3 separate regions of the Homo sapiens genome follow, and regions 2 and 3 are each linked to region 1. The links come from fine-mapping of genetic effects on gene expression. A gene starts in region 1. Each other region holds a variant in brackets. All regions are shown on one strand. Distances are between the middles of the regions.

Region 1 (9,188 bases):
GCGTGACGGTGTGCGCCTGTAGTCCTAGCTACTGGGGAGGCTGAGATAGGAGAATTGCTTGGACCCAGGAGGCAGAGGCTGCAGTGAGCCGAGGTCGCACCACTGCACTCCAGCCTGGGCGACAGAGCAAGACTCCGTCTCAAAAAAAAAAAAAAAAAAAAAAAAAGAAAGAAAGAAAGGAAGAAAAAACAAAAACAAAAATGAGAGGAGCACTAAGGGAGCAGGGTGCCAGCACAACTGGGCCTCAGTTTCCCTACCTGTCAAGCAAGCCTCAGTGACGGCTAAGGAATGGCACAACAGTTAACCACATAGGCTCTGTGATTAGGCCGACAGTGGTTATCCACATCTGGCGCTTACGGTGTGGCCTTGGGCAAGCTGCTTCACCATTCAGAGCCTCAGTTTCCTCACAGATCCAACGGGTCCGAAGATAACGACGTGCATCGCCAGGTGGCTGTGAGTACCACCAGGGTCACACACACCAAGTGCTGAGCCCAGGAAGCAGAGAACCCAGATGGTTCCTATTAGTATTACTTTAGTGTTTTCCCGGGGAATTCGGGATCCTGTCAGATTTCTGGCTGAAACAGTGGAAAGTTCCAGCACAGCCCAGTTTTTAAAAGCCTTGGCCTGGACCACAGGAGGCTTGGCGTTCCAGCCGGGCCTTGCCATGGATCTCCCGCGTGGGCCCGGCCAGTTTTTTTCTCTCTGTTCTTCTGGCCGCACCATAAGGCACTGGATGAAAGCACAGAGGGCTCTCTCAGGCCCCCTACTGCTTTGCAGGTCCGGGAATCCACAACTGCAGACCTGTGGATCCAGATAGAGACACCTAGAGGCAGGCTGTGCCCACAGCACTCAGTCCCTAGTAACAGGCAATTAAATCACTCTAGCCTGGGTTTCTACTCAACTTGTCCATCCCCCAACAGCATAAAAGCTACAAGGACAGCTGGGTGGTGCGGTGGCTCAGCCTGTAATCCCAGCACTTTGGGAGGTGGATCACCTGGGGTCAGGAGTTCGAGACCAGCCTGACCAACACGGAGAAACCTTGTCTCTACTAAAAATACAAAATCAGCCAGGCATGGTGGCGCATCCCTGTAATCCCAGCTACTCGGGAGGCTGAGGCAGGAGAATCGCTTGAACCCAGGAGGCGGAGGTTGCGTTGAGCCGAGATCACGCCATTGCACTCCAGCCTGGGCAACAAGAGTGAAACTCCATCTCAAAAAAAAAAAAAAGAAAAAAAAAAAGCTACAAGGAAAATATCAAGCTGAAGGACATTTGTTCACTGAACAGCCTTTGCTGTTTTTTAAGTACCCCCTATGTGTAAGCAACTGTGTTAGATGTTTTATGAAAATCCGTCCCAATTGTTAAAAAAGAGGAATCAAACCAGAATAAAGCCATGCTAATTACAACACTGGTTAATATGTATTGAGTGCTTACTACATACAAGGCATGGCTTCCAGCATTATACACGCATTAATTAACTTAATCCTTGCAATAGAGTGGTTAATACCATTCCTCTTTTACAGATGAGCAAAATGAGACACAGATTCCTGCAAATTGTCCAAGTCAGTAGCAGGGCTCAGATCAACACCCAGGGGTCTTAGCACCATCTTAGCGCTAGGCCAGGGTGTGTGTCTGCGTGGAGAGGCTCCTCTGACCTCTCCCCAGGAGGCACATTAAATTGAACCTCGGAGGATGAGTAGGATTCAGACACAGGAAGACAAGGAGGTACAGGGAGGGCATTTCTGATGGCAGGAACAGCACGGGCCAAGGCACAGAGCTGAGAGTTCAGCTGAGGGCATGGATCTGTAGAAAACCGTTTACCAAACGGAGAGAGGCCACATGCTAACGGGCATACTACAAATCAAATGCCTCTCGTTCATAAGTTCAGGGAACACTGGAGTAAATGTGACCCAGCTCGGGATTCTACATTGCAGGGCTTCTCAGGGTCTTTGGGGTGCTCGTGTGGCTGAGTAGCCAGCAAAGCTCTGGTCTGCAGGGAGGAAGCCTGGTTATCCTGCAGCATCTCAACAGGTCAGCTTGTTGGAAAACATGTGGCTGGAAATCAGGCCTGGCAGGGAGGAAGCCCAGGCCTCACGGCAGCTTTGTGTTTTTTTGTTTTTTTTTTTTAAAGAAAACTTGGACCCACTCAACAGTTTTGAGCTGGGGAGTGACATGATCTGAGTTGTGTTGACAGGCCAGAAATCTGAGCACATTTAAAAAGAGAGAGAGAGGGGGGAAACCTTCCGTCAGTCCAAGACTACAAATAAGAAAATAACCTGTCGCACGGAGCCATTGGAAGCAGCAAGCGAGCGCGTGTGGGATCCGTACAACACTTTTAGACTCCCTTCCTCTCGCACACCCCCTCTCCATCTGTCGCAAAGGGCACCAGGAAGATGCAGGGAGGAATATTCCAGCTCTGGGGGCTCCAGAGCTCAGCAGCCCAGATGGGGGGCTCTCACAGGAGCCACATCACCTCTCATGTGTTGTTACTGGTGAGGACCAAGGGGCTGTCAGTATTTCCACCCTCAGCAGGCTTTCAGAGAAATGCCTGTGACTTCATCAAAACCTTCTGCCCAGAGAAAGAACTCTTCTACAGTCCTCCACCCAAGGCCAGAAAGGGGCCTCTCTCACTCCCTCTCCAGCTTGGACTAAATCATCCTGATTAAGTCATTGAGCTTCTTCCCTAGAAGCCACCCAGCAGGAAGGCCAGCATCCAAAATCCTGGCTCCTCTCTATCACTTATAAGTTAGTTCCCCAGTTTGGGACTCGATTTTCTGCATCTGCAGAATGGGGAGAAGAGCCAATCCATGTCTTGCGGGTGAGACGACGCAGGAGCAGCATCCGGCCTGGAACGCCATTAACTATCTAATGAATGTTGGTTTTCCTCCCTTCTCTCAACACATGGTTCACACCAGCACTGCATAGGTGCTGCATGACTGCAAGTACAGACGTGAATTACCGTGAGTTTCCGAGGGGTTGGTAAAGGCCAGAAAGTACTCAGAGAAAACTATGGCTTTAAAGGAACTTCCAACAGCCTGATGTGTTGAGCCAAAGCACTCCCGCCCCGTTTTCTCTTCTTACGAAAGAGGAAGTGAGATTAACTTTACCATTTAGGAAAGTACAGAGGAGCCCCCAGAGTGCCACCCTCTACCAAACGGTGAGAGGTTCACTGGGGGGCCCCGCTGCTCCCCAGAGCCTGAACTGCAACTTGGCTTGGCCTCCTCCAGGCCAGAGAGAAGAAATGAATGGGAGTTTATCTGAGGTCGGCCTGGGGGGTGACTCAGAGGTCTCAAGGCCTACCTGGGGCCAAGCAGGCATCCTGCGGGTTCAGCGTCAGGCCCTGCTGACACAAAATCAGGTGCCAGGTGTCCCCAGGCCTCAGTCCCTTGCCCTTCTCCCAGCCTCAGAATCTCCCTCAGTGCAGTTGTTTTAGGAAACAGGCCTCACATTGGGTCCAAAAACATAGGTTGGTGACTTCACTGGGATCTTTTTAGAATTTCCCTTTGGCAGCATTTGTGCTAAAAGCAATCTTTAGAAACTTCTTCTCTTGCCTCCCCCACCCAGGATAATTCACATGATTGGCCCCACCCCCCCAAAACAGTGATCATGTGAAGACACAGGAATCATGTGACACCTCCCAGGCTGACAGTTCTGCCTGAGACACTAGTAGTCATTCAATCCAAAGCCGCCTTCCTAAACCTGACATTTTAGTTTCTCACTCGAACAAATCCATTTTCTTAGAAAATTGGACAACTGCCTCCTTGTACCTTCCTACCCTCATATCCTGTCTCTCTACTTCTTTGTTGTAAATTCCATGTCTGGAGCAATAGGGGGAGGGGCCTGAGGCCCCATCCTTCAGCCAAACCAGGTGACTTCCCTGCCCAGGCCCATGGTGTGACCAGGACCCCGAAGAACAGATACTGAAGGATAATGGGAGACTTGAGCTATGATGGTCGCACCTCATCCCTTCCCCACCACCCTCGACCAAGAAATTCATTCTTACCTCCTAAGATTTATTTATTTCAAAGCTAATCTTGGCCCCTCTGCTGCTCCCACTTTTTCAGGCTATTGATGCTGAATGGATTGGAACGGAAGTTTTATGGCCCAATCTTTACCATCTTATAGACTGTTTTTATAGGCAAAAGGGGGAGATGTGCTCACAAGAAAGGTGTTGGTGTTCCCAGCCGGTGCCCCAGGAAAGGCAGGCTGCCCATCGGAGCACTTGCTAATCAGCGTCACTGCTCGTTTGCCAGGGACTGAACCACAGCCTCCTGGTCGGAGAAGGGTCTGGAATAGACATTTAGAAATTAACTCGGGCCCAATTCCCTGCTTCAGGAAAATTAAGCACTTGTGAGTGACACTTGTGCATTTCCAGGCCAGGAAGGATGGCAGGGCAGGAACTCGGACTTTTGCAGGGTACAAATGGCCAGCTCAGGCAGGAAGGAGCAGATAGGAGATGCCACTCACTGGAGAGACGTGAACTGTATCAGTGCTCCCTTCAGCCCAGCAAGGACGCAACTATAACTGAAAAGAACTGGGGGTGGAGGGTGGGGTGGGGTGGGGGGATGCCTATGTGAATTCCTGGGTTTCAGGGGAAACTGCAGGGCAGAGAGAAGCAGCTGTCTACCCCCCATACTTCTCCTTCCACCCACTCTTTGCTAGTTCTCCCTTTCTCCCTGCTATCAGATGGTTACCATCTCTAGTCAAACGCAAAAGGGGGTGTTGGACACTGAGCTCATCTTTACCTCCCTCCTCAAGGGTGGGAGGTACAGAGAGACCCCACTGCCTACAACACAGTTTCAAGACGACAAAAAACAAGATCCCCATTTTTCTCTCCCTCCCAACTCCCTTAATGCCATTTCTCTGCTCCCCCCGCCCCCCACCCGGTGCCCTCCCAGGAGACCCATGGTTTTGCAAAACCCATTTAAGAAGCAAGACTCCTGAATGGTGACCTCACCCTTTGGTGAACATGCACAGTAGCCTTCAGAGCCCGCCTGCCGGCGACAGCCAGGTGTTTGATGTAGGCCAACAGAAAGACATGGTCAGAGCCACAGGTAACATCCCCGCGGAGCACCTGAACTGCAGGGAGCTGCCTGGAAGCTCGGGGAAGGCAGGAGGAAGGGGGAGCTGGGAGCGCCTCAAGGAGCAAGACCACCAGGGAGAGGCTTTGGCAACCACAGGGACAATCCACCGTGTTTTTACATAAGGATCTGTTGCTCGCAGCAGCTCGCTCTGGGGTTACCGCGGCCTCCCGGCTCCCTCTCTCCCAGGCACACACTAACACCGGTTTACTCTGCGCACCAGAGGGAGGGCTCACTCTTCCCTAATTGCAACAGCTTGTCTCTGTTCCATTCCAGGCAGCATCGGGAGGACCTCTGCCCTCACCTCCTCCCCTCACACCCTGAAGTCAAACATGTGGAAAGTCGTATGTCCATGGGGACAGATTCTGGGGAAGCCGGACGGCCCTGCTCTGAAAGCCACTGTCAGTCAGCCTTCCCCATTGGACCGGGCAGGGGCTGAGTGAAGCAACTCGGCTCTTTTGTCTCAGTGCCCAGCACAGTGCACAGAGTCAGAGTCCACAGAGACAAACTCTCATAGAAGAGACTTGGGTTCTACCCTTGGCTGTGTGACCTTGGGCATGTCGCTGGCCCTCTCTGGGCCTCAGTTTCTGCATCTATAACCCTGGTTACAGGCGTCTCTCCCCCTATTACTGCTCGGCATTAGCCGAAGGGGTCCCAGTGCCAGTCTGAGAGGCCTGAGCCCGCAGTTTGGGGAGTGCAGCGGTGGGGAGCGGGGGGGTGCTTACCTGACCAGGCGCAGGACGCGGCGAGCAGCAGGCAGAGCAGCGGCCCGAGGCGGCCGGGGGCCGGGCCGGCGGGCTCCATGGGCCGCGGCTGCGGAGCGAGGAGGGAGAGCGGCCGTGAGTGCGCGCTCGGGCGGGAGCAGGCTGGAGCGGGGAAATGACTAAGGCTCCCCCCCTTCCCCCCTCCCGGCTGGGCCTCCCCCCGACTCCGGAACGGGCGCCTGGAGCGGCCGCCGCCGCCGCCGCGGTTTTTGGAGACCCCCCCTCCCCGCCCCCCAGGAGAAATGGAGAGACGGAGACTGGGAGAGACCCCAAGCGCGCGAGAAATAAAGCCAGGGGCGGCCAGAGAGAGGCGGCAGGAGAGAGAAACAGACCCAAGGGAGCCAGGCAGAGAGCCAGAGACACGGAGAGGCGAGAGGGGGAGAAAGAGGGGGAGAGCGAGGAGCGAGGAGCGAGGCGGCGCGCAGACCGACAGACCGCGCGGGAGAGAGGACCGCGCGAGCAGGGGCGAGGGGCAGCACGGCCGAGCCCGGCCGCGCGGAGCCGCCCCCGCCGCTGCCCACCTGCCCCGCCCGGGCTCCACACGGCGCGGGCGGCTGGGCTCGCTCCCGGCCCGCAGTCCCGGCCGCTGCCCCCGCCCTCCCGGCAGCCCGACCCCCTCCCTCCTTCCCTTTCCCCTCCTCCCGTCTTCCCGCCGCCCGGGGAGGCTTCGGGGCTCCGGCCCCGCCGGCACCTTCTCTGCGAGCGAGCGCCCGCCTGCGCGCCCCGGGGGAGGGAGCGAGGGCTGCGAGCTGCGCGCCCGGCCGGGGAGGGCAGCGTCCTCCCCCGCGCCGGCGCCCGGGCCCCGGCTGCTGTCCCGGGAAGGCGGCCCCGCGAGCCGCCGCGGCCCGCTGGGGCTCGGGACTAGACGAGCCTCCGGCTCCGACAGCGTGCCCGTTCAGAAGCCCGCGCGGCTGGTCCCCAGCCCCGACCGGTCCCGCTCTGCCCCTCCCCGTCCCTGCCGGGCCCGGACCTGCGCCGCCCGCGAGGGCTGGAAGGCACTGGAAGCGCCGCCGGGGCTGCCCAGAGGCCGGGTCCCCGCTCCACTTTGCGCAAACTTGTTTTTCTAAGGTCAGCGCTGCGAGCTGGCTACATCGTCCTCTTAAGGTGGACCGGGGAAGTTGCGGCCGACCTCCCCTCGCCTCCGGACTCCGGCCGCGCGGCTGCTCCCCGCTTCCCACTGGCGAGAGGCTGGAGGCGGCGAAGGAGTCGGGGCGCGGGGGCGCGGGGGGCGGGGGGGCGTCTGCCTTTTAACCCTCCCCAGGAGGTCGTGCCTCTGAGCCCCAAAGCTGAAGGCCCCTCTTGGGGGTGGGTGCGGGCCGGAGGGGCCCGATCCTTTCAGAGCCGGGCCGAGGTGAAGGAAAAGAAGGAAGTAAGTGAACGCAGGGGGAAGGGGAGAGGAAGAAGAGATGATGGTACAAAAATAGCGTGTGTGTAGGAAGGACTTCGGTGCCGCCTGGAAAAGAGGCGCGGGGAGGAGAGGGAGCGAGAAGGGGGCTGTGGCGCGCAACCAGAGGGGAAGGGTCGGGGCCTTCCCAGGGAGGTGGAGGCCCCCTGGCCAGGTGTCTCGGTGGTGGAGGGCGGACTGGGCGGGTGGGAGGCCCAGGCCGGGGCGTGTGTGGGAGAGCGGGGCCCTGAAGGCCTGGGTTCCGGGAGAAGGACAAGCCCTGAGGAAGATGAGGGGAAGGGGAGCCGGGGCCAGAGGCCTGGAGTTGGAGAGGACAGAACCCCGGTTTTCCCGGAGGGAACGCCGTTCCTGTAGTAGCCAGGTCAGTGATGGGGAGTGCCAGTGTCGTGGTCACCTGGCAGAAGGCTCCGCACTGTGGGAGGAACACAAGTTCAAGACCCCGCTGCTAATGGGAGAGAATTTTGGTTCACACAGTGGCGGTTAAGAGGACAGGAATGACACAAGGTGAGAGAAGGCCCAACCCTGTAAATGGACAGAAAGTTGAGGCCCGGAGAGGGAATAGGTTTGCTTAAGGCCACACAGCAAAGCTTGGGGTAGAAACAAGATTTGAATTCCTGATTCCCAGGTTAAAGACCTGTGCAAAGTAACACCACTGCCTCCCCTCCTGCCCCGAGCCTCCTGGTGAAGGCATGGCCCTGCTGTTGTGCAGGGGGGCAGGGAAGGTGCCACACTTGAGAACATGGGCTGAACTCCGTGGGTTCAAATCCCCCGGCTACTGTTATGAGCTGGGTGGACTGGAAAGTGCCTTACCTCTTCTGTGCCTCAGCTTCTTCATCTGAGACGAGGCCAGCGTGAGTCTCAATTGTGAGGATTTGATGAGTTAATATTTGTAAGACATGTTAAAAAGAGCCTAGCACATACCAAGTGCAACATAAGCATTTGATAAATAAGTGAAGTGTTTGACAACAGTCCTTGAGAACCCACAGGGTTCTGGGCAGCATTTGAAGTGCAAGGGAATTTTCATTTCTCTGGGTGTGGGAGAGCACGAGGTCCCTGTCCATGAGGAATTTATATTCTACTAGGGGAGACAGGTAAGTGGACAAGTAGAAATAATTAATGAAGAACGGAAGATTGAACTTAGAGAAGGAGAGGGGTGAGCGTATTTAGATAAGGGGGCCAGTAAGACCTCCCTGAGACATGGGTTGCTGAATCACAAGTAGGGTCAGCAAGGCGAAGATTTGGGGAGAAAGGTGTTCCAGGAAGAGGGCCCAGCACAAGGAGGGGAAGGCCCCAGGTGGCTAGGCCGGAGGAGAGAAAGCGCAGTATGCAGGACTGGGGAGGGTGGGATGGTCTCCAAGACCTGGGTAAAGAGCCTGCGTTTATTCTGCAGTTGGGAGACCCCTAGAGGGTTTTCAGCACGGGAGGGCCATGTCTGATTTATGTGTCTAAAAGGCCAGTCTGCAAGCGGAGGGTGGACTGGAGAGAGAGGAGCGTGGAATTGGGCACCAATGAGAAAGATTGTTCTGGGGTTATCCTGGTATCTGAGGTGGGTGCAGGGAAGGTCTCCAACTCTTCAGGCCACATCGGGTCTAGACCATGAAGGTAACCAGGGAGGCTCCTGGGAAAATCTGTCACCAGACTCCATCTGGGGTGGGAGTGGAGATGGGGGCTGCTGATGAAGTCAGAGAAGAGGCAGCCTCCTGCCCTGGACTTCCAGAAGGCTCTGCTGTTCACTGTTCCTCAAGACACATACACACTCACAAACCTGCTGGGGGATTAGGAAACTGGAGATTAGGGAAGGATAATAATTGAACCACCTGCTATTTATATATAGCACCTTTGGCAAAGGCGCTCAGCAGGGCTTCCCTCACCTCTCCCCCTGGAGGGGGCCCTGACCCTTGTTCTCTGTCCACATAAAAATCATCCTTGGCCAACCTCAAG
Region 2 (10,384 bases), 59 kb after region 1:
AGGCCTTTCCCATATATTTACATCTGCACAGATATAACATGTGTGTCATAGGTATGCATCATACATCAATAAGATCATTCTCCATTTATTTGATAACTATTCATTGAGCACCTACTATGTGCCAGGCATTGTTGTGAGGCATGAAAAAGTGAGATTCCTACCCTCCAGAGCTGACACTCTAACAGAGTAGCCAGCAGACAAAGCTAAAGTATTCTTCCAGGTAGTGATATTAATACATGTTATGAAAGACATACATTTAGGTAAAGGGATAGAGGAGGATAGGAGTGGGGTTGTGGGGGGGTGCTTTCAGTCCAGGGGGTCAAGGAAATGTCTCCTCTGAGGAGACATTTGACTTGAGCTTGGAGGATGGGGAGGAACAAGCCCTGCAGATATCCAGGACAGATTCTTGGTAGAGAGGACATTGGGTGCCAAGGCCCCAAGCATGGCATGAAATTAGTGGGTTGGAGAACGAGTGAACAAGCCAGCAGGGCTGGAGCAAAGTGAGCGAGGGGAGGGGCAGGAGATGGGTCAGGGAGGCGCAGTGCAGAACATATGGGGTGGCATGGGGAATGCAGGTTGGGGCATACAACCAGAGCCTCAGGAAGATGGAGCAGAGGAGAGGACTGAGCTAGGATTGGTTTCATTGGGGTTTTTTGGTGCAATTTTTTTTATTGTGGTAGAATATACACAGCATAAAACTGGCCATTTTAACTATTTTTAAGTGTACAGCTCAGTGGCATTAAGCACATTCATATCACTGTGCAATCGTTACCATCATCCGCATGCAGAGCTGTTTTATCTTTCAAAACCGAAACTGCACCCATTCAACACGAATTCCCCCGTCCCCCAGCCCCATTCTACTTTGCGTTGCTATGGATTTGACTACTCAAGATGAATCATATAAGTGGAATCATGCAGTATTTATCTTTTTGTGTCTGGCTTATTTCCCTTAGCATAATATCCTTGAGTTTCATCCATGCTGTACCGTGTGACAAAATTTCTTTCCTTTTTAAGGCTGAATAATATTCCATTATATGTATATACCACACTTTGCTTATCCATTTATTCATCTGCCAGTGGACACTTGGGTTGCGTCCTCCTTTCGGCTATTGTGAATGATGCTGCTATGAAGATGGGTGTGCGGATACTTATTTGAGACGCTGCTTTCAGTTCTTTTGGGTATAGAGCCAGATGTGGAATTGCTGGGTCCCATGGGAATTCTTTGACCTGGTATTTTATGTAACAGAATCCAGGGGCTACCAGGGGAGAACAGCCACCACGGAAGGGCAGAAGCTGGGAGGCCAGCCAGGCAGCAGTTGTTGCAAGGCGCCTTGTCTTACGTAACAACCCATCCTGCAGATCCCTCCAGGGTGGCACAGGGAGTTCTGCCTGTCTCTTTAATGATTCAGGGCACTTTCACTTTCATCCTTTATTTGGGTTCATCCCAGCTCTGGAAGTCAGGTGGGAAAAGGCCTATGATCCCCTTGGAGAGACAGGGACAAAGGGGCTCAGGGAGGGAGAGTGTCTCAGCCAATGTCACTGGGCTCTAGGACGTCCTCTAGGACGTCCTTCAACCCTGGGCCTGCCTTGGGACTGACTCTGGGGGTAGATGACTCCCCTGTGAGTCTCCCTTCTATTCCCTACTCCTGCCAGGCAAGGCTGGGCAGCTGGAGAGAGCTCACAGCCAGAGCCTCTCTGCCAAGACATTAATGAGCCTGAAATCCAACTCAGGGTATCCCTGGGACCTGGAGAGTGAGAAGGAGGCAGCACCCTAATTAGCCACCATTCTTCTCACCTGCAGCTTAGGTAGCCCACCCCGACAGCACTGCCTGAGGCTGGGGGTGTCTCCCAGCAGGCTTAGGAGCCCTGAAACTGGCTGCTATTGGCTGTGTGTCCTCTTTCTGTGCCTCAGGCCCAGGAATGCATCCTGAGGAGGACAGTGAGAATTCCATCAGAGCCACAGGAAGTCACACCCCACCCGGGCTGGGGTCTGACCTGGGTTCAGGCAAATCTCAGGGCCCTGCCTCTCCTGGGATCAGTTCCTCCCTTTTTAAACTTTCACTTTTTGGCTGATGAAGCTTTGTGGGATGAAAGGAGGAATGGGAGATGCTGCTTCCTTGGGTCGGGGGAGCAGGATGGAGAAGGGGCCAGGCCCTGTCTCGCTGGTTTCCCTCCCTCCTATAGGCATCCAGGTCCCAGTCTCTTCTGCCCATTCAGCCCCTTCCTCCTTCCCTTCCTTCCCTGCATGATCTGTCCCGCCCCCACCAGCTTAGTCAGCTCAGCCACAGGGACCTCCTTGCTTTCTTCAAACAAACCAGGAGTGGGCCTGCCTCCGGGCCTTTGCACTCACTGTTTCCTCTGCCTGGAACTCTCTGTCCCAGATTCTATCTCATGCCTCCTTTACATCTTCACTAAAATGTGGCCTTTTCAATGAGACTTTTCCCGACTCTCCTGTTTAAAACTACAAATTGCCCCACTCCTCCCTGGCAGATCTCCACACCCTTCCCTGCTTTGATTTTTTCCACAGCACTTGTCGTCACTTACCACTGGCATATATTATATTCAGTTACCATTCTCTTTCCTCTAGATTGCATGCCCTGTGAAGGCAGGAATTTCTCTCTTGTTGGCTTCTGCATCCCCAATGGCTGGCACAGAATAGGAGCTCAGTAAAGATGTGCTGAATGCACAATTTCAAGGACCATCCATGGCCATTGCCATCACCCTGGTCCAGCCTGCAGCCACCCTTCCCCTGGATGCTGTGACAGCCCCCAATGCTAGGCTCCCGATGTCCTGTTTTGCCCCATCCAGGCAGTTTCCTGCCAGCAGCCAAAGTGAGCTACTTAAAATGCGATTTTGACCAGATGATCCCTGATAGAAACACTTTTGTGGGTCCCATTTTATGGAGAATGAAACCCACAGTACATCACTCAGTCTTCAAGTCCCTGCCTGCTCCGGCCTCCAGTTACTCTCAAACTCATCCCCTGTCTCCTCCCTCCATTGCAGCCACACTGATCTCCTTGGGGCTTCTTGGCCACATGGAGCCCTGCTCTGACCTCAGCGCCTTTGCACCTCCTGTTCCCGCTAACTGGGACACTCTTCTCTCTACCCTTTCTGGTCAGTTCCATCACATTCCTTCTGTCTCAGGCGAATGTCACCTCCTCAGAGAAGTGTTCCCTGACTACCCTAACCGGTTCCTCCACCGAGTCACTCTTAGCTGTTGCTTTGTTCCTATATTTATTGTCTTCCGAGTCACTCTTAGCTGTTGCTTTGTTCCTGTATTTATTGTCTTCCGAGTCACTCTTAGCTGTTGCTTTGTTCCTATATTTATTGTCTTCCGAGTCACTCTTAGCTGTTGCTTTGTTCCTATATTTATTGTCTTCCGAGTCACTCTTAGCTGTTGCTTTGTTCCTATATTTATTGTCTTCCGAGTCACTCTTCGCTGTTGCTTTGTTCCTGTATTTACTATCTTCCGAGTCACTCTTAGCTGTTGCTTTGTTCCTATATTTATTGTCTTCCGAGTCACTCTTCGCTGTTGCTTTGTTCCTGTATTTACTGTCTTCCGAGTCACTCTTCGCTGTTGCTTTGTTCCTGTATTTACTGTCTTCCGAGTCACTCTTAGCTGTTGCTTTGTTCCTATATTTATTGTCTTCCGAGTCACTCTTAGCTGTTGCTTTGTTCCTGTATTTATTGTCTTCCGAAGGAGACTGTGAGCTTCCTGAGGGTAGGTCCTTGTTAGCTTCCTGTTCTCAGCTCGGAGGAGGCACATGGCACATAGTAGATGCTCAATAATATTGTCTGGCTGGATGAATGAAGGTGTCTGAGCACACGCAGCCATTTTCCTCGTTATTCCTCCCTGTCCTCACAAGCTAGGATTGTGATGCCCTTTTGAAAGATGATGCGATTGGGTCTCAGAGAGTTTGGGCAAGCTGCCTGGACCACACAGGCAGTGAGCAGTGTGTGTCTGTACGTCCTTTGTGTGTCTATGTGTATGTCTGGATGTATCTCTGGGTGTCCAAGTGTCCTCTGTGTGTGTCTTTGGATGTCTGTGTGTCTGTGAGTCTCTGGGCACCCAGGTATTCCTATGGATTTGTGTATGTCTGTGTGTTTGCAAGTACCTTTCTTTGCTATGCACATGTGGCTGCCATGTGCATATCTCTGTTTCTCTGTGTGAGTCTGTATCTGTATATCATTGTGAGTCCCTTCATGTCAGCTGTCCTAGTGTCTCTGTGTGCCCCTAAGCATGTGTGTCCACGGTCCAGCTCTGTCAGCTCTCCCAGCCCCCACTCGGTGGTCCATGTCATTCCCTGCTGCCCCAGGCTCCTCCAGGGCTCTAACAGCCTGTCATCTTCCAGCTGTGGGGTCCCTGAGTTCTTTGGGCACCTGGGGAGCTGGAGCAGAGGAGAGAGGCAGACAGTCAGGCAGGCACTGTGCATCCCTGGGGCCCACAGACCCCAACCCATGGAAACCCTCGCTAGCCCCAGGATTGGCTCCTGACTTAAAATTGCCAATCCCTGATTGAGCTGCCAGGAGCCCGCACTGGGCTGGTTCCCATGGCAACGTGGAAGCTGCCAGGCCTCCCGCTCATAAAACAGGTCATAAAGCAGGGGGATGGGAGGAGGATCAGGGGCTGCCCAGCTGAGGGGGGGCTGGCTGCCTGGGAGCTGCTGGGGCCACTTCCCTTGGAGACCTGGCCATGCACCTGTTGGCAGCCAGGCCAGGTTCTGCTCTGCCCCTCACACTGAGCAGCCTCTTTGTGAATAGGAGTCATCATGGCCTCTAGTTCTGCCTCTAGGTA[C/T]GATGTTGCATGGATCCAGGAATGCTTTGGGTGAAAGGGCCCAGCAGGACTGAGGCCTGGGAGTGAGCTCTGTAACCCTCTGTCTCCCCATCAGTAAAACGGAGAGCGAAGGGAAAGCAGCATGGTGAGTGGAAAGAACCAGGCTTGAGAGTGCACTGGGTTCAAACCCAGCTCCACCTGCAAGCTGTGGGACCCTGGGCAAATGGCTTCAGTCTCTGAGCCAAACTTGTTCACCTCTCAAATGGAGACAATAATGGCGTAGAATATTTGTGAAAATTAAATCAAAGTTTATAAAAACTTCTGATGGTGCCTGGTCCAGAGACCAGCTGTGGTTGTTAGAAATAATAGCAGCTATTATAATAATAGTGATAATTGTGTGCCAAGCACTTGTCTAAACACTTTACACGCAGCAGTTTATTTTATCCTCATAGGTGATAATTATTCCCATTTCACAGATGAGGATGCTAAGGCACAAGAGGTTAAGTGACTCACTCAAATCACAGAAACCAGAGGGAGAACTCCGGTTTAGACATGGAGTTGGGGTGCTTTCAGCCACAACCCAGTACTGCCTCTCTCTTCCCTCCCTGCAGAATCAGTGAGGCTAGGGGAGGAGTCAGCATGAGCCCCAGCCAGCCTCCTCAGCTTCAGGGCCTCCCCACTGCAGCCACGAAGAGGAGAGGGCTTGGCGAGCGTGGGCTTGGTCCTCCAGAAGGACTTGGGGAGGCAAGTTGCAGGGATCACAAAACAACCTCCTTCAATACCCTTTTCCCATTGCTCAGAGGGAGAAATTGAGGCCCAGAGAGGGCTAGTGACTTGCACAAAGTCATATAGCGAGATAGTAGCTGCAAGGATTCAAACCCAAGTCCCTTTCTTTGGAGCCAGTTATACTCCCAATAAGCCCTATGGCTGCCCAAGTACCCCAGGCCACTGGCAAAATTGAGAAGAAAGCAAAGCAATAGGGGCAGCAGTAATTCCTGTGTGTTGTGGATTTAGCAGGTATTGGGTATCACGCTGCAACCCTTCACGTGCACCTTGTTTAGTCCTCGCTGCAGTCCTATAAGGTTAAGGCACATGATACACATTATCAGCATCATCCCCATTTTAGAGATGAGAAAATTGAGGATCAGAGAGGTTATGTGATTTCCTTCAGGTCAATTCAAGAGACTTGAACCCAGACCTGCTGATCCCAGAGCGGCATACAAGGACCCAGCCCTCAATCCTGGGGTCTTTCTGTGGTGTAACTCTTGGGGCGTGCCCATGGGGGCTGCCTCGTGCTGACCACAGCAAGGCCCAAGGAATGAGCATTTCTCCGTCCATCCATCTGTCTACCTACCTATCCGTCTGTTCACTCAATAAATATTTACCCAGGGCTTTCTCCATGCCAGGCAATATTCAGGCATTGGGAGGCATACAGCAGTGAACAAAGCAGGCAGTGCCTGGCTTCGTGGCCCTCATACCCTCGTGGGGAGAGGCAGACTATAAACAGAGAAACAACAAAGATGTGTGTCAGGTGGTGGTGAGGGCTATGGAGAAAAACAAAGCCAGAGGAGGGGGCAGCGCAGGATGGCGGGGTCGGAGAAGGCTTCTCTGAGGAGGTGACATTTGAGCGGTGATCTGAAGGAGGTGAGGGCTTGGGCCGTGTGGGGATCACTAGAGAGGGGTTTCTGGCAGAGGAAATAGCGGGAGCAAAGGCCCTGAGGCGGGAGCGTGCCTGGCATGTTGGAGGAACAGAGAACAGGTCAGTGCAGCTGGAGACGGCAAGCAAGCGGCAGGGCGTTGGGGAGGTGGAGAGGTCAGTGGGAATCAGACCAAGGGCGGCCCTGTCAGGTTTTCTTCTGAGTGAGATGGAAGCCATTGGAGGTTCTGAGCAGAAGCGTGGAATCATCTGATTGAGTTTTTAAGAGCATCTTCTGGCTGCTGGAGTGAGGATGTACTACAGGGCTCAAAGGAAGAGGGAGCGGGGGTTAGAAAGGCAAGGTAGTATGTGGGTGTCAGATGGCAGAGGCTAGGGCCACGCAGAGTGAAGGAGGTGGAGAGGGAGGCCAAGATCTGAATATATTCTAAAGGCTAAGCCACAGGATTAGGGTCTGAGAACCCTCTAGGATGGCTCCAGGTTTTTGGCTTAAACCAGAATGAAACTGTCATTTATGCAGGTGGGGAGGACTGCTGGAAAAGCAGTGCGGGCCCGGGCTTTGCACATCTCAGTTCGTTTGTGCCTTATATTCCTCAAGCATCAGAATCACCGGAGACACTTGTTGAAGTCCAGATTTCTGGGATCCTCCACCAGAGCTTCCCATTCAATAGAGCTGGGTGGGGCTTGAGAATGTGGATTTCTAATCAGTTTCCAGGTGATGGCGATGCTGCCAGTCACAGGACCTCACCTTGAGACCCACAGATTGTTGCAGCTGGGGAAGTGGAGGCTCACAGCTGGAAGGCGACTGGTAATAAAGTCATAAATTGAGCCAAAGCCTCTTCAGTCCTTGGCCAGCTTCTGGACCCTGATGGAGAGAGAAGGGAGCCCTCAGACATTTGTCCCCAGAGAATGAGAAGTGGGTGTGGCTGGAGCTCCTAGGGACCCTCTGGTTTCTGCTTCTGTTTCCATGGAGGCCATAAAAAAGGGTAGTGGCCGAGCGTGCATGTGACATGCATTCTCTCCAGCTTCTCCACCCCCGGGTGTAATCCTGTCTGGCTTCCCTGAGCCCTGTGCACAGGAGGGATTCTGGAGAAGCTTGCTGCAAGACCCAGCGGTGTCCTCATTCCTTTGTTTTACAACCGTTTGCCGTGTTCGCATGCCGCAGTTGTCAGGAGTGCTATCCACCATCTGGGTCCATTTCTGGGTCTCCTCATGTGGGGTGCGTGGAGAGGCTGTACTTTCCAGCCTTCTTGAAGTTAGGCACGTCCTTGGCACTTGATTTCTGCCAAGATCTGTGAGCAGAAGTGAGGTGTGTCTCTTTCTGATGGGAGCCTCAAGAGCTGGTGAGCAATTTTTTGTCTGCATCCCCTGCCAGGGAGACTGGCGGGTTCTTCAAGGGAGGGCTCGCCAGCCTGGGCCCCTGACTGTGGACGTTATGGAGGAGAAGCCTTGCCAACTGGAGATGGACAGGGAACCGGAGTAAGAAGCAAACCTGTGTTTTTTTAAGCCAAGGGTTGGCAAATTTTCTTGGCCAGAGAATGAATATTTTAGGCTTGTCACAGCTACTCAACTCTGCTGTTGGAGCAAGAAAGCAGGCACAGACAGTACGTAAATGGGTGGTTGTGGCTGTGTCTCGATGAAACTTTGTTTACAAGATGAGTGACCAGCTTGCAGGCTATAGTTTGCCAACCTGTTTGAAGTCTTGAGAATTGGGAGTTGTTTGTTCCTGCAGCATGAACTAGCCGTAGTGACAACTGTACCTTCCATAGTGACCTTGCTGGCATAGACAACAGAACCTACTATGCCTCTGCAAGCACAAGGCAGTAGATAAGGAAAGTGTACTTGACTTTGGCTGGAGATCTTGTGGTTCTCCTCTCAGATCCTCTTCCCATCCTTCTCCTTGCTCTCTGTCCTGAGTGGTTGGCCTGCAGGGATTATGTCAATCAAGGGAACCCTTGTTGTCTGGCTTTCCATTGGGTCTGGCCCATTGGGAGCACTGGTGGGATCTGGGAAGAGAGAGGATAGTGAGGCTGGTGTATTTATTCCCCAGTTCTCTGCCTTCAAGATCCCCTCAAGCTGCCTGTGTCCTTCAACTGAAGGCCACATCTCCTATTGGGGGCTCTCTCTTATCTCCTGGTGACAGCCAACTTCTCCCTTCTCCCTCCTCTCACCCTTTGAGCCCATAATAGTTCGACTTGCACCAGCTCTGAGGTACTACCTTATCCTTTGTGGTTTGCTATACTCTTTTCTCATCCCTCCTAAGTGATCCCTTTATTAAAATCAAATCAAATGACCTACCTGGAGGGTGCCATCTGCTCCTGCTGAGACCCTGACTGCTGCTGCTTTGAGGCACACATGTCTGGGCTTGAATTCTGATTGAGTCACTGCCTTAGTTAAATCATGTCACCTCTGAGACCCCTGGGTTTTCTCTTCTGCAGACTGAAGCAAAACTAACCTCTAGGAAAGGAGGAGGGGTTTCCTAAACTATGGTATCTGTACAATGTCAGGAGGCATCTCAATTAGTGTTAGGAAAGAAGGAAGGAATCCTCATGACAGCTTGGAGAGGGTGGGGCCTGAGTGCCACTTGCCACTTGGGAAATGAGGCTAAGGCTGCGTGGGATGGAGTGTTCCGGGGCTCTGAATGGGCCTGAACCCTGGACAGACATCAGTGCATACACCTCTGGTTCAGTCCCTTCTGGGGATATTGCTGGAAAAGGGTCCCTCAGGACAGAAAACGAGGCATCAGCTAGGCCCAGGTTCAAATGTGGGCTTTGCACTCCTTGCTGTGTGACCTTGGGCAAGTGACACTGCCTCTCTGTGCTTCATCTAAAAATAGATAACACAAATACCTACCACAAATGAGAAACAGAACATAAGGCAGGCATCCTGACTCTCTTTTTGACTGCTGTATGCATGGTATCTAAAGCAGTACCTGGTGTATAATAGGTGCTTACTGCTTGTTACATGAATGAATGAGTGAACAAATGCATTTGTGTAGAGCACTTAGCACAGTGCTCACCTGCCTGAATTCAGCTTCTGATGCTACCAGTTTCCAGCTCTGTGGCCTTGGGTGCCTCATTTAAATTTCTTTATGTGGAAGATGGGATTCAAAAATACCTACTTTGTGGGATTGCTAAGGACTACATGAATCTTCACATGTGCCAGGCAGAACCAGCACTCACTCATGTTAACCATCATTGGTCACACTTTTGCTGGGGGTCAGGCTTTTTAAGCTGTTTAAGCTCTTTTGACCATGCATACAGCAGTCAAAAAGAGATTCCGGATGCCTGCCTTATGTTCTAATCCTCACTCGAGGTAAGTATTTTTATCCCTATTTTTAGATGAAGCACAGAGAGGCGGTGTCACTTGCCCAAGGTCACACAGCAAGCAGTGCAAAGCCCACATTTGAACCTGGGTGCCTGACCAGTTGGCTTACTGGAATTACCCCTGGGCTGGGGACAGAAACCTGGGCAACTTGCCACATGATATTGGATGACTGTTGCCCTCCAAGAGCCTCAGTGTTCCTATCTGTGAAGTGGGAGGTGGTGGCTGAAGTGGGAGCCTTCTGAGTCCCCTTGTAGCTTGCACCTGCACATGGGTCACTTTCGGACCAGGCTGTTGCAGGGGATGCCCTATGCACAGCCCCAGAGATGGGACATCTGGATGTGAATGGACTCAGGGCAAGTTCAGGGTCAGAGCCCTCCTCACATGCCTGGGCCAGTGGCAAGCATGTGCCAACACTACTACTACACTACATCACAAACACTACTACTAATGGTATTGCTGACCTTATTATCATCATCATCATGAGGTGGGAGCTGGGAGGAAGCCCTCGTTGGGGTAGGGGTCCCAGCTTCTGGGCCCTCCGCCCTGTTCCCGATTCCTCTATCCTTGGCCAGTGGTGCAGCGGGGAGGTGGCAGCCCATTGGTGCTCAAAGCTGGAAGAGACGTTCTTC
Region 3 (10,384 bases), 86 kb after region 1:
TAAGGACCACAATGGTGGCTATTTTAACTGGCAAAGTAAAGAAGTGTCTCTTTGAGGATGTGGCATTAGAGCTAGACTGGAAGACTTAAGAAGATACTAGCTTGACAGAAATCCAGGGAAGTGAGTCCCAGGCAAAGGGGAAGAGCAGATTCAAAGGTCCTGAGGTGAGAGAGAGCTTGGCAGGTTCCCCAAGTATTCAGAGCATAGGACAGAGAGGAGATGATATCAGAGGGATAAGCAGGGGCTGTTTCCTATAGGGGTTTGGAGGTCAGGGTTAGGAATATGGAAGCCACTGGAAGGTTTTTAACAGGGGAGTGACATGATATAAATCCATATTCAAAAGATTACTAAGTGCTTTGAGTAGAAGAGACTACTGGGGGCAAGAGTAGAAACTGAAAGACCAGTGAGAGACCCCAGTGTTTCAGTGAGAAATGATGGTTGTTTGGATTTAGATGGTGGCAGTGGGTCCATCTGTTTGTCTACCGCTTTGTTCTTCCCTCCTTTCTTCCATTCTTCTATCTCTTCATCCATCCATTCATCCATCCACCCATCCATCCACCCACCCATCCATCCACCCACCCATCCATCCACCCACCAACCCATCCACCCATTCATCCACCCACCCATCCATCCATGCATGCATCCATCCATCCATCCATCCATCCATCCATCCATCCATCCACCCTCCCATCCACCCACCCACCCATCCATCCATCCATCCATCCACCCACCCACCCATCCATCCATCCATTAACTAAACACTCAGAGCCAGGGGCTGTGCTGGGTGTGTCTATGGGGAGTCAGGTACAATGCTGAGATAACAAGAATGAAATACACATGGTTCCCAGCCTAAGGGGCTTACAAAACAGCAGGGTACACAAAATTGCAATGTAATGTTATGAATGCTCCAGTTAAGGAATGCATGAAGCACCGAGAGAGCTCATGGGAGGTAATTCCCTATGCTCTGTCCTGGAGGAGATACTGATGTTTGAGTTGGGCCTTTCGAAGGACACGGGAGTTGGACAGGCAGCAGAAGAGTGTTCCTGGCAGGGGCACACAGCTTGAGTAAAAAGCAAGGAGGCAGCATGAGTGAGCATGGCCGGTTCTGGAAATGTACAGATGTCTAGGTTGGTTGAATCAACAGATGCGAGTGGGGACGCTGTGGGAGAGGAGTTTGGGTCAACTTGGGAAGACGTGGAGCAGCATATGCCCATGACTGGGCCTGCCCCTTCCGCTCAGCTCTGCCTGCCCCTATCAGAGCTGAATAATTGAATTAAGTACCAGCTCTTAAACAAGATGCAGCTGTTTAGCAGATGTTGCTTCCACCCCAGATGGAGGTGCATCTTGGCGACGGGCACAACATTTCGAAGGCGTCTAATTTGTGAGGCTGTGGAGAGGAAAGAACTTCAAGATGCTGGCATTATTATTTAATAACCATCATTAATTACACACTCCCTCCCTCCAGCACCACTGCATGTCAAACATTCCTGCCGGATTGGGACTGGGGGCACAGAGGCGGGCTGGCAGGTGGGCTTGGGGGTTGGACTTGCTGGTTCTGATTCAGAAAAACAAAAGAAGAAAAGGGAATAAAGTCATCAATCCACAAAGCCTTCAAGAACTTTTATAATAATGGAAAATGACTTCTCTTGCATTTTTCATAAAATGAGTACAAATAATAACTGCTATTGATTGAACCCCCACTCAGAGCCAGGGGCTGTGCTGGGTGTGTCTTAGACATTGCCTCCAATTCCCTAATCCTCCCAACAGCCACGCATGGCCCTACCTCAGGGCCTTTGCCCTTGATGTCTCCTCCGACTGGGAAGGTTCTTCCTTCAGACACCCACATGGCTAACTCCCCTACATCTTTCAAAGCTCCACTTAAATGTCAGCTCCCCAGAGAGGCCTTCCCTGACCACCACTCCCTGAAATAATGTCCTCCACATTCTTGACCTCCTTCCCTTGCTTTTTCTTTCATCACCTGATATACGTATATTTGTTAATTGTCTATTTCTCCCTTTTAGATTTTAAGCTCCCAAGGGCAAGGATTTTTGTTTCATTCACTGTGGCCTCCCCAGCACTCAAAACAATGCTTGACACAGGACAGAGTTCTTTTTTCTTTTTTGAGATGGAGTCTGGCTCACTTGCCCAGGCTGAAGTGCAGTGGCACGATCTTGGCTCACTATAACCTCTGTCTCCTGGGTTCAAGCGATTCTCCTGTCACAGCCTCTGGAATAGCTGGGATTACAAGTGCACGCCACCATGTCCAGCTATTTTTTTTTCTTTTTTGGGGGGGTATTTTTAGTAGAGATGTGATTTCATCATATTGGCCGGGCTGGTATCCAACTCCTGACCTCAGTGACCCGCCTGCATCGGCCTCCTGAAGTGCTGGGATTACAGGCATGAGCCACCGTGCCTGGCCCAGAGTTCTATAAATATTTGTTCAATGGGTGGGTGATTCATCAGTGGGTCTCATTAAAAAATGTGCAGAAGAGTGTTAGGGAGATAAAATCTCTTTCCCAGGCATTACACAGCCAGCAAAGAGCAAGCTGAGATTTGAATTCAGCTCTGTCTAATTCTAAAGCTCTGCTCTTTTCATTAAGGACTTTGTTTTTCTTCTCCAAAGAACTTATTACCACTTACATATTATTATTATTATTTTTGAGACGAAGTCTTGCTCTGTTGCCCAGGCTGGAGTGCAGTGGCATGATCTCGGCTCACTGCAACCTCCGCCTCCCAGGTTCAAGTGATTATCATGCCTCAGCCTCCCGAGTAGCTGGGATTACAGGCATGTGCCACCACGCCCTTGTATTTTTAGTAGAGATGGGGTTTCACCATGTTGGTTAGGCTGGTCTCGAACTCCTGACCTCAGGTGATCCAACACCCCCCCCCCCACCCCTCGGCCTCCCGAAGTGTCAGGATTACAGGCGTGAGCCACCACGCCCAGCCCACTTACTTATTATTTATCTATTCATGTGTTTAATGTCTGTCCTTCCCACTACAATGGCAGCTCCACTGAGGGCAGAGTTCATCTGTTCTGTTCACAGCTGAATCCCCAGCCCCAAAACAGTACCTGGCACCCAGGAAATGCTTTATAAATATACGCTGAATGAAGGAAAGAAGGTCTGGGATATGGGAGGCTGGAGGTGTTCACACCCTTGCTGGGTCTCTGACTGGGTGAGACGGTGGGGAGCTCCAAGATGTTTTCCACTTCCCCAACCCCTCCCACATACAGACTTCTTATTCACTCTTGGAAGCAATGCTGCAAGGGAAGTATTATCCAAACCATTTTACAGATGGGGAAATTGAGGCTCAATCAGAGAAATGATTTGCCTTTCTCAAGGTCACCCAGCTAGTAAGTGTCAGAGCTGGGATTTAAACCTAGGTCTCCAGAGTTCACTTGTCATGCAAAAGGGACCCTTAATGCTTGCTAGCTCTGCCCACCCAAAGGCAATAGCTAGAAGGTCCAGAAGGTCCAGTCACAATCTATGCATTTCCCCATCAAGGTCAGGGGTGTCAGGACCAATGTGAAACTCATGCTTAATTCACAACTCCCAGCTTTGTCCATTTAAATGAAAACTTTCATGTTATTTTAACCAAAATCCCCTGTCGACTTCAATGAAAGCTTTGAATCCATGAGGAAGGTCAGAAAGGGTTTTTTGGAGGTAGCACAGGCGCCCAGTGGAAATCATATTAGCATATTCATTATCATCAGGGCCCTTTGAATGTGTTTTTGAGCTGTTCCCTTCAAGTGACTGGAGACAATGGCTCCTTTCTGTTCACAAATTCCTGGGCTTGAAGTGGGCTGTGGCCAGCTCCTGTGTGCTTCTCTGCACTTTCCAAATGGTCACAGGGAACCCGTGTCGCATAAGGTAACAGGGAGGATGTCATCCACCAGGAGTGCTGGTGGTGAATGAGGCTCTTTGTCTGGGTTTGGAAGAAATATCTCCTCAAGTCACTTAGGCAGCTATGGTGGACCCCAAAGATGGGCTCAGGTAACAAAATATGTTGTTAAACTGTCTTCTAAGGAGGCTGGACCCTATTAACAGGAGATCCCTGAGTGTGGCAGAGTCAGGGCTGGGTCTGGGGTAACAAGGTAGTTGCTCAACTCTAGAAAGTGCCAGGATCACCCAGGGAGCATTTAGCAACCATCAGTGCCCAGCACCACCTCACCAGGCCATCTGGACCCAAATCTTGGCGAGTAGGGGAGTAAACAGGCATCAAAGGTTTGTAAGTGTCCCCAGATGCAGACAGGCAGCTAGTAAGCAGAGCAGAATGGCTCTCTCCTCGAATCAGAGGGGAGGAGA[A/G]AAGAGAAGTTGTGGGTGGGGTATGGTGGGGAGGGAGGGCTACAGGAAATCCTCTGGGCATGTGTCGGGAAAAGAGAACTTCAGGGGAAAAACACTCTTTTTTTTTTTTCTCTCTCTAAAGAAAATTCTCAAACTACAGGAAGTGGAGAGAACAGTACAGTGACCCTACACGCTTGTTACCAGCCTCACCTGTCACCCACATGGAGTCCTTCCCATTTGTGGGGTTTCCAGGTGTGTGCCTGTCCCAGGGAGGCCACGTGCCCCTGCTGCCCCAGAACCTTCCTTCTGTAAAGCCCACGCTGCTCTCCAGTGATTCTGACAGTAGATCCTTGGTGGGAACACAGAGCTCCAGCTCTCAGCCCGGGACAAGCTTTGACAGGAGAGCCAGCTACTGGGACACAAGTCCTTTTGTGTGAAGGGAAAAAAAAAAATAGTTCTAATTAAAAAGAAATCCCCACCTATTTGGACTAATTCCTCCATGACTAGCTTCTCCTTAGTTCTCCTGTTTTCGGACAGGGCCTGAGGCCGATTTCCCCTGAATAGGATCAAAGAAGTGAGGGGACTAGCCTAGGGCCTGGAACACCCAGAGGGTGGCTGCTGGGGGCGTGAGAACTGGGTAGGGGTGCCTCCAGGAAGTCCTCTTATGTGTGCTTCTTTGTTCATTTGACAAGGATTTGCTGAGCACCTACTATGCATCAGACGCTGTGTTCTAGGCAAGGGGGATACACCTGATGGAAGAAGGTCCTTCCCTAGACGTAGCTAACATCCCAGTGTGGGAGATGACACGAAACAGTAAGTAAAATCTACCGCGTGTCAATAGATGGTGTTAAATGCTACAGAGAAAGTTAAAGCAGGGAAGGAGACGGGGGAGGGACTGCTGGAGTGGGTGGTAATTTTTAATGAGGTACCCAGGGAAGGCATCTCTGCAGACCCACACAAGTGAGATAGGGAGCCGTGCTGGAGGGGCACCCCAGGCAGAGGGCACAGCAGATGCAAAGGCCCATGGGTGGGAGTTCTCCTTCCAGGAGTGGTGATCACCTTGAGTGGCTGGAATAGAGGAAGGGCTGGGGAGAGCTCTGGGAGGTGAGGTCAGGGAGGCAGGTCTGTAGGGGAAACTGAGGAGGTCAGACTGTGTGACTTAGGAGGCCTTTGTTTTTCCTCTGAGTGAGAAGGGCAGTGATGGGTGGGTTTTGAGCAAGAGGACTACAAGCTCCAGCCTAGGTTTTAACAGGACATCTCTGGCTGCTGAGTTCAGAACAAGTTGTAGAAGGCAGGCCAGAGGCAAGAGGAGGCTGTTGTGTCACCCCAGGTGACAGACGATAGTGGGTCAGACTAGGGTGATCATGGAGGGCACGGATACGTTTAGAAGGAAGAGCCAATAGAATTTGTGGACTGCAAGAATGTTGGAATATGACTCAGGACAGCCAGGGCTGACTCCAAGGTATTTGACCTAAGCAGCTCGAATTATAGAGTTGGCATTTCCTGATATGAAAATCCTGCAGAAGGGGTGGGTTTTGGAGGCACAATCAGGAGTTCCATTTTGGACAGGTGAGATTTGACATGCCTGTGTAACACGGACGGAGCTGTGGAGTTAGTAGCTGGGCATGAGGCTGGAGTGCAGGGGAGACGCCTGGCCCGGAGTCACCCCAGATGGTGAGTGAGATCACTTAGGATATGATTGTAGATGGTGAGACATGGACTAAGGTTCTGATATAACAGGAACTGGGCCAGGCCATGTCTTCTGGGCCTCGTCACCTGGGATTGATGGAGGGATGTCCTGATCCTACCTCCCTCTCCATTCACCACTTCCAAATCTTAGCATTTACCCTAAAGATAAACGGGAGAGCTGAGCTAGCCTAATTTTGGTTGAAAAGAGCAGAGCCTCTCTCCTAACTTGAGCCATGGGGGTTGTTGTAAAGCTACATGCAGGGACTGGAAGGCAGGAATTTTGACCACACATCACAGAATACAACTTAGCCACTGGAACATCATTCAGGACCCAGTGCTCTGGGACTGAGTCAGTTCATAGTCATCTCAGGAGCAGACGTTTGTCAAATTTCTCCTCCCCCTTGTCTGTCTTGGAAGTTTGGCTTACTCATTGCCCCTGTGCCTTCACATTTGTTTGAATTATGTCATCTTTTAGGGTCTTTCAGCTTGTAGGCATCATCCCAACTCTTTGTGGTCCAATTCAAACTGGCAGCCACCATCACTGCTGATGAGTTTAGTTAATTGGGCTCAGCCCTGCTGGGTGGAGCTTCTGTCCCAGGCTGTATCACAGGCTGCTCAGCCTATATTTTGGCAGTCTTTGGGTCAGGTGGCTCTTCCTGCCCCCACCAGGTGTTGTGGAAGTGTGGAGATATTGGGTAAAGAATTCAAGGTCAATAATAGTAATGTCAACAGTAATAGTAACAGCATGGCTATTGATTAAGGAAGACTGCATCAGACAGACTGGGTTCCGGTTCAAGCCCAGCTTCTACCACTTACTATGACCTTGGGCAGCTCGTTCAGCCTAACTGCATCCCCATCTCTACATCTACAAGTGGGAAATAATAATGTTAACTACATCTTAGCATTGTGGTGAGGAGTATATAAACTAATCAAGAAGACTCTTATGGCATATAATTTAATCAGGGCTCAAAAAACACCAGTCACTCTTACCATGACTATTGGTTGAACAGTTCTTCTGTGCTAAATGAGGTGCTTTAAAGGCGCACATTCTCATTTGATTCCTTATAAAATCCCAATGAGACAGGTTCTTTTTTCAGCCCCAACTTATAGCTGTGAAACTGGAGGCAGAAGTGATATGACTTATCCAAAGGTCCTTCAGCTAGTACGAGATGAAGCTGGGACACTCAAACACAGGTTTATCTGGTTTCAGAACCGGTGGTCTCACTGTGTCCCCCCAGCGGGGCATATAGAATATGTAAATGCTCACCCTGGGCCACTTCCTCTGCAAGACTGTGGGCAGGAGCCCCCACAAGAAGGTGCAGGGCACTCCCTGATCCTCCACAACCCCACTCCCTACCCCAGATCTTTCTGCCTTCCGAGGAGATAATGCCTAGTCTTCTAAATACTACTCAGATCCAGTGGGATTGTGCCCCTCGCCTGCTCTGCCCTGCAAAGGCCATTCCTATTCCTTGTCCTGTGTGGTCCTCAACATTTCAATTACTTAGCAAAGCAGGGATTATTTCCTCCCATTTGACAGATGCAGAAACTGAAATTCACCGAAAGGATGGAACCGTATTCTCCCCAGTCCTTACAAGGAGCATTTGGAGAAAGGCAAAACTGAACTTGAGGGGAACAGGGAGTCACTGCATGTCCTCGAACAGGGGTGAGGCAAAGGCAAGAAAGACCGGGGTCAGAACAGAGAAGCTTGGAGCTGGAGCAGAAAGGTGCCTCATTTAACTGGGCCTGTGCCCTGCTTAGCAATGTAGCCAGTTCTGCAAAGTCTCCTCCAGACTTGGGGTTCAGTCAGGGTGTAAAGGAAATAGAATGATATGAATTCCTGGTGCCAGTTTAATTTCATGAAATATGCCAGCATGGCCCTGGGGCTTGATGCAGTCTTCCCTACTGAAGGATCACAGCGGGAAGGGAGCATCTGCAGGCTCTTGGCTCACATTTGTCACCTGTAACCTTCACACACCAGGCACAAGTCTTGCCCATGCTCCGGGGCTGTCATCCATAAACAGTCCCTGAGCTTCACATGTGTGGGTTTCACAGCACAGCTCTGGAATCTGACAGTCGAGGGTTTGAATCTCAGCCTTGCACCTACTCTCTGTGTGGCCCGGAGCAAGTCATTTAACCTCTCTGGGTTTCTGCTTCCTCGTCTGTGATCCTCACTCAGTGGGATACTGCGGAGATCAAGTGAGATATGTTCATTTAGTGCTTGGCACAGTGCCTGGTGTGTGGCAAACCCCATTACTGTTTCACACAACACAAAATAATTCGGACACTTGCTGTTGGCATAGGAATGATTAAAAGATATACGGTATAGGAACATAACAAATAATAAAAAAGGAAAGATTATTTTGATGACAGAGTGGAAGATGTGTTAGGAAGGAGAAGACTGGTATAGAAACATCTCTGCTAGGAACAGTGTTTGGCTGTTGGTAGCAAAAACAACAACAACAACAACAAAACACCTAACCATGGAATAGATTTTAGTTGGTCCTCAATACCCATGCTCCCCTTCTTCCTTAGTCAACAAAATCCCTAATTTTCATCAGAATACATGGCTTGCCTCCTGCAATAAAGATTACAGTTTCCAGTTTCCCTTCCATATCCTAGGTATGCCCATGTAAGTTCTGGCCAATGGAAAATGTTGTGTGTGACTTCCAGAAAATGTCTTAAAAGGGAAGGTAAACACCTTCCTCCACCAGTCCTCCACACTTTCTGGAATTTGAGACATGATGACTACATCTCAAGCAGCTCGGACCATGTGATAATTTAAAGATGGCTGTGGATTCTTTGATCCTCCTCCCTTTGAGAGGAGTCAATTTCCCCTGTACTTAAATCTGGGCTGACCTGTGACTTCTTTGACCAATAGAGTATGGTGGAAATGATGTCACGCCCACTCCAGGCCTAACCTCTAGGAGGACTGGCAGTTTCTGCTATGGCCTCTGGGAGCCATGAGCTGCCATGAAAAAGGTCAAACTACTCTGCTGGAGACACCCACCTGGAGAAGCCCTGGGATTCCATGGAGAGGCAGACGGACCCAGCTGAGCTCAGTGTTCCAGCCATCCCCACGAAAGCACCAGGAACCTGAGTGAAACCATCTCGATCCTCCAGCATAGCACAATCAGCAGCTGAAGATCACTGAGTGACTCTAGTCGGCGCTCCATGGATCACTGAAGGATCACCCAGCTGAGCCCTGCGCAAATTTCTGACTCACAAAACTGTAGACGATACAATGGTTGTTGTTTGGGGGCAGTTTGTTATGCTGTAGCAATAAATAGCCAGAAGAGACCAAGAGGCAGAAGTTGTTTGCTGAAAATAATGCAAAAATTATACCAGCCCTTGCCCAGCTACCTCCGGATTTCTTGCTACATGAAAAAAAAAAAAAAAATCCCTATTTGTTTAAGCCTCGTTGACACCTTGGGCTATTGCTCAGTCCTCAGTTTTCCATTTGTTAAATGGAGCATTAGCTCCTGTCTTACTACTTCCCAAAGGTGCCTGAGAGGGTAGAGTAAGAATGAAGAAGAGAAGGCCTTTTTCATGTAATATAAACAGTGCTTATGTTCCCAAAGATCAGCGAGTGACATGCTCAAACAGTTATAATATATTTAATGTGGTCATAATGGGAGTGAACTTGTCATGAACCAATTGCAATGGATTTTGGAATCAGACACGTTAGGGCTTGAGGCTCTCAGCTCTGCTAGACAAACTTCTAACTTGACAAATAGGCCAGTCATTAAATCTCTCCAAGCCTTAGTTCCCTCATCAATAAAGCACAGACGATGTGATTTCCCTCCGTTGAGTCTGTGTGAGGATTAAATTAAATGAGATTCATCCATCTATTTGATAAATATTGAATATCTCCTAGGGTCTAGGCCAAACACACTCTTGATATTGGTGGAGGCTGGTGTCCACTCACCCTTAAATCTAAATATTTAAAAATTATAAATCAGACCAATACCTTCTCTTAAATGTTCTATCCTTCTCCTCAGTAAGTATAACTTCTCAGCAGCCTGAAAGGCCAGGATTGATTTGGATTTCTTAGATACTCGCACTGAAATGTGGCGGTGCTGGGGAGAGCCAGCCCCATTCCCTGGTCGCTCATTTCCCAGCCTATAAACTGCCACCTTCCCTTCTCATCCCCAGCTCCATCCTGTACCGTGCACACCTCACCTGCATGTGTGTAGACATCCCAGGCTGCAGGTCCAATCTCCATCCACACCCTATCCTCTGCAGTGCCCCTTGGCTACACCCTGGGCTTAGTGTTCTGCCTCCAGACAATAGACCAGGAAGAGGCCTGGCAGCAGGCTTGGGACTTTTAGGTAGGGAGCTCAGGAATCCTAGGAATCTGTAGTATTCTAGACAAGGAGCAAAGACTTGGATGGGTATATCCCCTTGGCACTGCA

The links.
Region 2: its variant is fine-mapped to the expression of SIRPA in whole blood (TOPMed, PIP above 0.99).
Region 3: its variant is fine-mapped to the expression of SIRPA in whole blood (TOPMed, PIP above 0.99).

The regions. Positions count from the first base shown.
Region 1 is chr20:1,892,142-1,901,329 of GRCh38, reverse strand. SIRPA (signal regulatory protein alpha) reads right to left here and starts at 5,923. Exons shown (of 8, transcript NM_001040023.2): 1 at 5,804-5,923. The coding sequence starts at 5,882. It overlaps LOC102724545 (a long non-coding RNA gene), which reads left to right and starts at 7,080. Exons shown (of 4, transcript NR_186374.1): 1 at 7,080-7,211. RefSeq lists enhancers at 709-758, 568-1,137, 4,763-5,278 and silencers at 6,570-6,689, 6,700-6,959.
Region 2 is chr20:1,832,910-1,843,293 of GRCh38, reverse strand. LOC105372501 (a long non-coding RNA gene) reads right to left here. Exons shown (of 4, transcript XR_001754475.2): 3 at 10,217-10,384; 4 at 6,753-8,434. Among named protein-coding and RNA genes, the nearest start is that of SIRPA, 57 kb to the left of the region's middle. The variant C/T (reference allele first, on the strand shown) is at 4,796.
Region 3 is chr20:1,805,266-1,815,649 of GRCh38, reverse strand. No RefSeq gene overlaps it. Among named protein-coding and RNA genes, the nearest start is that of SIRPA, 85 kb to the left of the region's middle. The variant A/G (reference allele first, on the strand shown) is at 4,305.